Linked DNA regions of Homo sapiens. The protein of the gene in region 1 interacts with the protein of each later gene in a pairwise test. Each region holds a gene or a part of one and is shown on either strand. Other genes may lie near its edges. The genes, in order: TPP1 and FBXO42.

What was found.
Region 2: the proteins of TPP1 (region 1) and FBXO42 interact in binary tests that used the Homo sapiens proteins (3 or more experiments, as listed by UniProt).

The regions. Positions count from the first base shown.
Region 1 is NC_000011.10:6,616,623-6,620,999, reverse strand, and holds the start of TPP1 (tripeptidyl-peptidase 1 preproprotein), read left to right. Parts: upstream 1-1,577; 5' UTR 1,578-1,599; coding exon 1,600-1,616; intron 1,617-1,732; coding exon 1,733-1,804; intron 1,805-2,084; coding exon 2,085-2,224; intron 2,225-3,223; coding exon 3,224-3,374; intron 3,375-3,571; coding exon 3,572-3,699; intron 3,700-3,846; coding exon 3,847-4,025; intron 4,026-4,140; coding exon 4,141-4,339; intron 4,340-4,377. UniProt on the Homo sapiens protein: Lysosomal serine protease with tripeptidyl-peptidase I activity. May act as a non-specific lysosomal peptidase which generates tripeptides from the breakdown products produced by lysosomal proteinases. Requires substrates with an unsubstituted N-terminus.
Region 2 is NC_000001.11:16,349,503-16,353,832, reverse strand, and holds the start of FBXO42 (F-box only protein 42), read left to right. Parts: upstream 1-1,352; 5' UTR 1,353-1,578; intron 1,579-4,330. UniProt on the Homo sapiens protein: Substrate-recognition component of some SCF (SKP1-CUL1-F-box protein)-type E3 ubiquitin ligase complex. Specifically recognizes p53/TP53, promoting its ubiquitination and degradation.

The DNA.
Region 1 (4,377 bases):
CACATTGTAAAAAGAGCTCAATTTGTTGAGCCTTTGTCATGTCAGGCTCTCTGCAGGTGGCTGCCTTGCTTAATCTCAGTGTAAATTTTCACAGTCATACAAAGGGATTTGGGAACCACTGGTGTTGCCTGTTCTTTGGGGAGCCAGGCTGTGAGGGAAAGGCAATTGGCCAGTGTTTGAGAAGTTCATGAGATTGAGGAAATTAGAAAAAAAAAAAAAAGTTGTGGTCAAAGGGAAATGTTTCTGAGCATGATGCTAGTAAATACAGCTCTAGGATCCACGCTTAGTGGGAAACTGGAGGGATCAATGGACAGAGAGAAGTCAGATTAATAGGAGTGAGGAAAAACAATGGCTTGAAAAAACAGAAGGTTATAGTCTAAGAAAGCATTCTATAATTATAATTTCAAAGGTAGAGCAGTTTTGAGAGATAGCAAGCCCAATGCAGCCATGGGACTGGTTTGCTTAAGTGAAGTGAAGGTAATGCTCACTGGGTTTAATGAGATGAAGAAATGGAAGGTTAGGGTGTTGAATGGGTCTTTTACCTAGATATTTTGATCATCTAGGTCAAATGATCGCAGGAGTTGGGATGGACAGAAAGGTGAAGTGCCATAATCTTCAGTGTGGGAATATAATCTATAGGTTAATGGAAGCCAGTGGCCTGTAGGACAACAGCAGGAGTAGAGGGATCTATCTAAAAAGTATTGAGGTCAGAACAAGGGATTTCACATGAGTATTGGATTAATGGTTTTGGAAGTTAAAATGACACTGCTGACACCATCTTCCATATGGATTTTTGGGGGGAAAAAAAGGAAGACTGGAAGGGAATTGAATCCTCAGGGTTTTAACTCTCATTGAAAATCCTCTTGTAATGACCCCAGTTGGAAGTAGTAAACTCAGACCTCCTTGTGGGCTTTGAGTTACCATTAGAAGAAGCAAAGGTCCGTTTCCATTTTATCCACCTGAGCCCACTAAACAAGATGCAAGATTCCTCCATGGCCCTTAGAACAAAGTTGATTTCCTTGAAAACCTTGGGAACCCATAATAAACAGGACCCCAGCTGATTGTAGATCTCCTGGGAAGCTACTTAAAACTGGAAACTGATTTGAATAAAAGGATCCTGGTCTTGCAAAAGCTTTACTCTGTTCATAAATGTAGTCGTAAAATGAAGACAAAATTGATAATATGGGGACATAAAGGATAAAAGAGGAAAAAAATTTTTTCACTGCAATCTTTCGAGGCAGATCACTTTTATATAAGTCTCCATATTGTAAATGCAGAAACCTAGGCTCTGAGAGGTTATTTTGCTGATGTCATACAGCTAGGAAGAACCCCAGTCTGTGGGTCTCTACAGCCCACTCACTTGTGGTGATTCCCAGGGGACCAGGCTCAGGACGCAGGTGGGGAGCCCTGGGCTTACTCAGTGCTTGACTGGCCAGAGGGGAGAATCCGGGTGGCGGCCCCACCCTTGCCTAGCATTTGGGACCACCCATGCAAGGGAGGAGCCAGTACCGTCACTAGTTACTAGGCAGAGGGGTAGTGGTGGTGGAATATAGAGCTCATGTGATCCGTCACATGACAGCAGATCCGCGGAAGGGCAGAATGGGACTCCAAGCCTGGTGAGAAATTGAGAGGGCTCGGGAGAAAGGGATCACGTTGGAGGGAGCACACATTGGGAGGGTGGGAACACAAGGACAACGTAGCTCCCACTGAAACCCACCTGCTGCCCCTACAGCCTCCTAGGGCTCTTTGCCCTCATCCTCTCTGGCAAATGCAGTTACAGCCCGGAGCCCGACCAGCGGAGGACGTGAGTTGACTTAGCACAGACTGCCCCCTTCCCCATACCCTGTTCTGCCTCCCACTGTCCTGGTCCTAGCTTCTCTCACCCCCGTGCCAGCTCCTAGTACGCACTCCATAGCTTCATCTCTATGTTCCTAGCCTCAGTCCCCTATCATTCACCTCATGTGATCTGTATCTGCTCCTAGGATCCTCCCCAAGGTCTCAGCTCCTAATCTGGAACCTTCCATGACCAATATTTTCCATCTCCACCCTAACCAAAGCCATGTCCCTGACCCCTGACCCTACAGGCTGCCCCCAGGCTGGGTGTCCCTGGGCCGTGCGGACCCTGAGGAAGAGCTGAGTCTCACCTTTGCCCTGAGACAGCAGAATGTGGAAAGACTCTCGGAGCTGGTGCAGGCTGTGTCGGATCCCAGCTCTCCTCAATACGGTGCCTTTTGGGACTGAGGACAGGATGTGGGATGCGGTGGAGGGACACAGGGCTGGGTTGGGCATGGGATGGCGATCATGTCAGAGCCTGCCAAGACACTTGTGTTCCTCAGGCTAGAAACCTAAAAGGGGATGTGGTTCAGTATACAGGCTTTATGATCAAATACGAACTCAAATTCTGACTCTGCTACTTACTAGCTACCAGGCATCTAGTACAACTTACGTTCCTTCCCCTACCCTCAAATCCATTCTAATTTCCTCTTTTGTTCACATACTAAGGCTGCCAGTTCTAACTCCCAAAGAGCCTTTGGATTAATCTCCTTCTTGCCGTCTTTTGTTACGACCAACTCCGTTATTTATTCCCACTCCTGGACTACTGCCCAGCTCCCCAGCTGATCTGCAGTCTCCTCCCTCCACCCCACCCCTCACTGTACTCCCCCACTCTGCTTCAAAACAGTCTCTCCAACAGTCAAAATGGATTGGTTCCTTCTCCTGGTTAAAGCCCTTCACAGCAGGGGGAGTGTGTGCTTGTGAACTGCAGAGGCTGGGGACGGGGCAGTGTGACACTAGTGTGCATGGCAGGAAACAGTGACTCACCATCGTGTTAAGCTTAAAATCAACAAGTATGCAAATTTGAGCTAAACTGAATAACTGGTACCGAAAGATTTGAAAACATTTACCGGACATAAGCTTAAAATTAAAATGGAAAATTTATATGTATTAACCTCATTCATTTTCATGATCATGGCAATACATGCTGTGGTGCGACATTTGCAACTTACTGGCCTTTAGGGTAAATCCATATTATTGGCCATGGCATTTCAAGTCTCTCCAGCCTTTTCTTCCTCTGCTTCCCAAGTACACCCTACACCTGCACACATAGCCCTCCTTTACCCTGTTCCAGGCTTTGGGAAGTCCTGATGTCTCATAGTTGAGGTCCAAAAGGGGGAGTTTGGGAAAGCAATGAATGAGGGCAAGTGCCTCTTCTGAATCCCTGCAGGAAAATACCTGACCCTAGAGAATGTGGCTGATCTGGTGAGGCCATCCCCACTGACCCTCCACACGGTGCAAAAATGGCTCTTGGCAGCCGGAGCCCAGAAGTGCCATTCTGTGATCACACAGGACTTTCTGACTTGCTGGCTGAGCATCCGGTGAGAGGAAATGATTGCTCCATGGAGGGCACCAGTCATCCCATCAGTGAGATGGATGGGAGGGAGTTGAGAGCTTGCTGGGGCTTGTGGGTGGGAGCTAATGCATGGGGAGACAGTGACTGACTGCCCAGGGATGCTCAGAGGTAGCTTCTTCTGTTCCGTTTTGAGCTTTCTGACCTCTGTTCTCTGACCTCCAGACAAGCAGAGCTGCTGCTCCCTGGGGCTGAGTTTCATCACTATGTGGGAGGACCTACGGAAACCCATGTTGTAAGGTCCCCACATCCCTACCAGCTTCCACAGGCCTTGGCCCCCCATGTGGACTTTGGTAACACCTATGGGGTGAATGGGGGTTGGGGCACACAGATCCAGGGGCTGAGGAAGTTTAGATGCCATTGGGGACTGGGGGTGGGGTGAGTTGTAAGGTGGGCATTACAGTCTATAAGATCTCCTCAAGCCTGACTTCTCCCTACAGTGGGGGGACTGCACCGTTTTCCCCCAACATCATCCCTGAGGCAACGTCCTGAGCCGCAGGTGACAGGGACTGTAGGCCTGCATCTGGGGGTAACCCCCTCTGTGATCCGTAAGCGATACAACTTGACCTCACAAGACGTGGGCTCTGGCACCAGCAATAACAGCCAAGCCTGTGCCCAGGTGAGCCAAGCAAAGAGCCCCAGGGTCCTCATAGCCTCCCCACAGTGTCCTCAATTCCTTACCACCCTGGGACTCACCCTCGGACCCACGATCTCTGCTCTGACTCCCTCCATAGTTCCTGGAGCAGTATTTCCATGACTCAGACCTGGCTCAGTTCATGCGCCTCTTCGGTGGCAACTTTGCACATCAGGCATCAGTAGCCCGTGTGGTTGGACAACAGGGCCGGGGCCGGGCCGGGATTGAGGCCAGTCTAGATGTGCAGTACCTGATGAGTGCTGGTGCCAACATCTCCACCTGGGTCTACAGTAGCCCTGGTACTACCAAGAGGACTGGACAGTGGGGAAGGGGGTGG
Region 2 (4,330 bases), on another chromosome or scaffold:
CACACGCCTGTAATCCAAGCATTTTGGGAGGCCGAGGCAAGTGGATTACTTGAGCTCAGGAGTTTGAGATGAGAGTGGACAACATGGCGAAACCCTGTGTCTACAAAAAAAATGGAAAAATTAGCCAGGCATGGTGGTGCCCGCCTGTAGTCCCAGTTACTCAGGAGGCTAAGGTAGGAGGATAGCTTGAGCCTGAAAGACAGAGGTTGCAGCGAACCAAGAACTCATCACTGGACTCCAGCCTGGGCAACAGAGTTAGACCCTGTCTCAAAAAAAAAAAAGTTATTATCAATAGAAATGAATGTCTGGGTTATGATAAGGGATTGTGGACACCAAAGTTTTATCACGCACGTGAAGCCTCCAAGTGGCAGGTGGGCTCCAGAGAGAACAGATTGTAAATGTTTCTTACCAGTCTTAAGGTCTGTTGTGTTGATGTCAATGCTGAAGGATGTAATGAGGCATGTCTCATGTCCTGCTTCCCGTCATGGCCTGAACCAGTCTCTCAGGTTGGTTACATTTTAGACTGCCCTGGCCTAGGAGGAAGTCCGTTCAGATGGTTTGGTGTTGGGGGGGGGGTGGGGGCTTAGTTTTTTGTTTTGTTTTGTTTTGTTTTTTTGGCTTACAGAGTTTAGACTGAAGCCTTTGACTCTGTATCTGGCATTTCCTTAGACCACATGCTGTAGGGCTGGGCTCATGAAGGTTCTCACCTACACACCAGGTTGCTCCCTTGAGAAGGGGGACTTTGCTGGATCCTATAACCTAGCTAGTAGGAAGTAAAGGAGCTTGGGAACCAGACAAGCCTGAGTTTAAATCCTCTTTCCCGCGCCGCCCCACCTCCACTGATAGGTGTGTGACTCCGGGCAAATAAGTGATCGTTTTCTGTGCCTCAGTTTCCTCATCTGAAAAGTGGAGCTAGTAAGAACTCACAGTGGTTGCTACGAGGCTACGGTTAAGGGAAGACTTCTCCTGCACACCTCAAGCACAGTTTCCCTCCCCTTGGCGATATCCAAGAGCACTCACATCCGCCACAGCCCTCTCTGCTCATCGGGCCCTCGGGGTAGAAGTGAGTTAATTCCTGGCTAAATGTTAGTCTCAAACCACCGGGAAAACCACCCAGTTGCCCCAGACAGTGCAGCGGAGGGTGGGTGCGGCTATCAGGTCGACGCTAGAGACGCGGCGAAGGCGGGTGCGGAGGCCTAGCTCCCCCGAGCGCATTCCACCCTCCACAGAACCTCGGCCTGTGACCACGGCCTTTCTCAACACTGCGCCGCCCCCTGGCCGCCCCTCGCCATCCCGCCGCGCTGACGTGAGTGCGCGCGCGTCCGCCGCGCCCGCCCCGGCGCATGCGCGCTCTGCGCTGTCTTCTCCCGGCCTGAGCAGCAGCAGCTGCGGCGGCGGCGGCGTTTGAGTGGAGGAAGATGGCGGCTCCGGGCGGCTCGGGGTCCCGCCAGCTGTGAGGAGCCCCGAGCACGGCTGTCGCGGCCTGAGGCAGAGCGCCTCTGCTCTGGCCCTGTCCCTGGCTCCCTCATTACCGTCGCCAGCGGAGCGAACCCGAGAGCGTGGAGCGGGCTGGGCCAGGTGAGGCCTCTCCTCCTCCCCGGGCCGCAGAGGGGAGCCGGCGCCTTCTGCCCTTTATGCCCGGGACTGGCAAGGGGCAGCGGGCGCCCGGGGTCTGACGCAGGCCCCGTATCCCACGCGGGGGTCGGTCCTGGTTGGGCAGGGTGACTTGCTATCGCCGTCCTCGAGTGAGGCGAGGAGGAGGACAGCTCCTTTCCAGCCAGCCCTTGGGTTGGGAGCGAACCCACCCCCTCTCCTCAGCAGGGTGGTTCTCGTCCCCTCACCCGGGCAGTGAAGGGGTGTGTGGCCCGGGCAAGGATGGCTTTAGGGTGTCAGGTAATCTTTCATCGCTCCTCCGAACATTTCACTCCTTTGCGAGAGAGGAGTCGGGGGTCGGGTGCCCATCAAAATTGGGGCTGCGGCTGGGGGCTAGCATCTCTGAACCTGCAGCTGCAAAGGGATAATTTTGGAATTGGTTTACGTTAAATAAAACACAAAAGGCCTTTCCTATCCCCTAGCTTGTTGAGTGTTCCCTTAGAGAAATGGGAACTGCGGATCTCCTTGCTTGAGACAGCAATCCATGCTGTGACTGTGGAAGGCTTCTCTTGGCGAGAATTGTGTGTGCAAAGGGAACGGTGGAGGGTGGGAACGAATTTGTAAGCGAAGAGAAAACGATTGTGAGATCTTGATGGTCGCTGCAGAGTAACTTCAGCGCTGAGTTCGTTTGAAACCTTCGGTTTGTTAAGATTCAGAATAACCAATTGCTTTGTCTGTTAAATCTCCCGATTTCTGTTAGGAAAATAAAAGCCTCATTTCTTAATTGCCAGAGTCTGGATTTTTCTGTGGTGGGATTCTGATCGATCTAGATGAAGATTCTGACACATTACCAGTTTTACTTGCTGGCAGTTGCTGGCCCCGACGTTGAAACTATGTTGTTCCTTTTTGAGAACAACTTTTATTGCTGTTTAAATGCTAATTGGGAGACTTCGATTGTGTTTCTGTCATGTAGGGAAGTCGGTTTGAAGCCTTGTGGTCTCTTTCTTGAGGAATGATGGCTTCACTGAACTTGTGCTATGCAGAATTGTTGAGGCGATTGCTTTTGCTTGGACACACCAAAATATCTTTTGTAACAAATTGGCTTTACTTCTGCTTAAGAATGATGACATCATGGATTTAAAGAGGCAAGGAAAATTTGGGGGAAGTACCATCATTTAGAATTGAATATTTAGAATTAAGTCTGTATATCTTATGGCCATTAGTGATGCTGTGTTAAATTGCTAACTTTGAGTGTATTCACGTGTGTAATCTGATTGGGTGTCTTTTCTATTGTATGTTGTCATTTTATACCCAGTAACTGTTTGCTTTTGACAAGCCAGTATAAATAGATGATTCAATCTACATTGATCCATAGGCATGTTGCGTATCTTAAAAAGCTTTTCATTGTTAAAATGACAACTGTTTAGGTTATTATTTGACCATTTTCTTTCTTTCTTTCTTTCTTTCTTTCTTTCTTTCTTTTTTTTTTTTTTTTTGCAGTTTCTCACTCTGTCATCCAGGCTGGAGTGCAGTAGCACAGTCTCGGCTCTCTGCAATCTCCATCCCCTGGGTTTAAGCGATTCTCCTGCCTCAGCTTCCTGAGTAGCTGGGATTACAGGTGTGCGCCACCACGCCCGCTAATTTTTTTTTTTTTTTTTTTTTTTTTGTAATTTTAGTAGAGACGGGGTTTCACCGATGTTGCCCAGGCTGATCTCAAACTCCTGGTCTCAAGCGATACCCTGCCCCACCCCAGGCTTGAGCCACCGTGCCCAGCCTCCTTTTCTATTTTTAAATCAAAGACTTTTCCATAGAAATTTGTCGATTTTCTTAGTGTCTTTGCTAAAGATGTAAATCTGAACCAGCAGCTTCTCTGTGGTAGAAAATTGGAGAGCTACTTTGCATATCAATTTGCTAATAAAGAGTCATGAAATTAATGCAGTAAAACATCCTGGTGGCTCATCATTATGCTTCTTGGCATAATATGTTGCACTGTTATGCTAAATCATCATCAGGTATTGATGCAACTTCATGACATCCATGACATCATTTGCTCTCCAGATTTTGACCTTTGCAATTCCTTACCTTAGTTACAAAAAGAACAGGATCAGAAAAAAAATAGCTTAGGATGCTTCTTCTTGTCTGATTTCTAGAGGGGTCTTTAATAACAGCTTTATGTGGTTTAAACCCTGAGTAAGATTCAGAGCAGGGTGAGTCCTACCTATTATGGAGAGCAAGCAAAGAAAATGCTAACAAAACGTCTGAGTTTTATGAGAACACTGAGGTCCCAGGGAGAAGCTATCTCAAAGATGAACAAATACGTAATTATCTTTGTGATTTCAGAATTGTTTTAGTCAATGAATTAACTCTTTTTGTTTGTTTTTTGAGACATAGTTTTGCTCTTGTTTCCCAGGCTGGAGTGCAATGATCTCGGCTCACTGCAACCTCCACCTCTCCGGTTCAGGCGATTCTCCTGCCTCAGCTTCCTGAGTAACTGGGATTGCAGGTGCCTGCCATCATGCCCAGCTAATTTTTTGTATTTTTAGTAGAGACAAGGTTTCACTATGTTGGCCAGGCTGGTCTTGAACTCCTGACCGCAGGCGATCCACCTGCCTTGGCCTCCCAAAGTGCTGGGATTACAGGCTTGAGCCACTGCGCCCGGCCCTGAATTAACTCTTTATAAAACCAGAAGCCATTTGATTAAATAAAGCCCTTCCCACGATTGTTAATGTGGATCAGA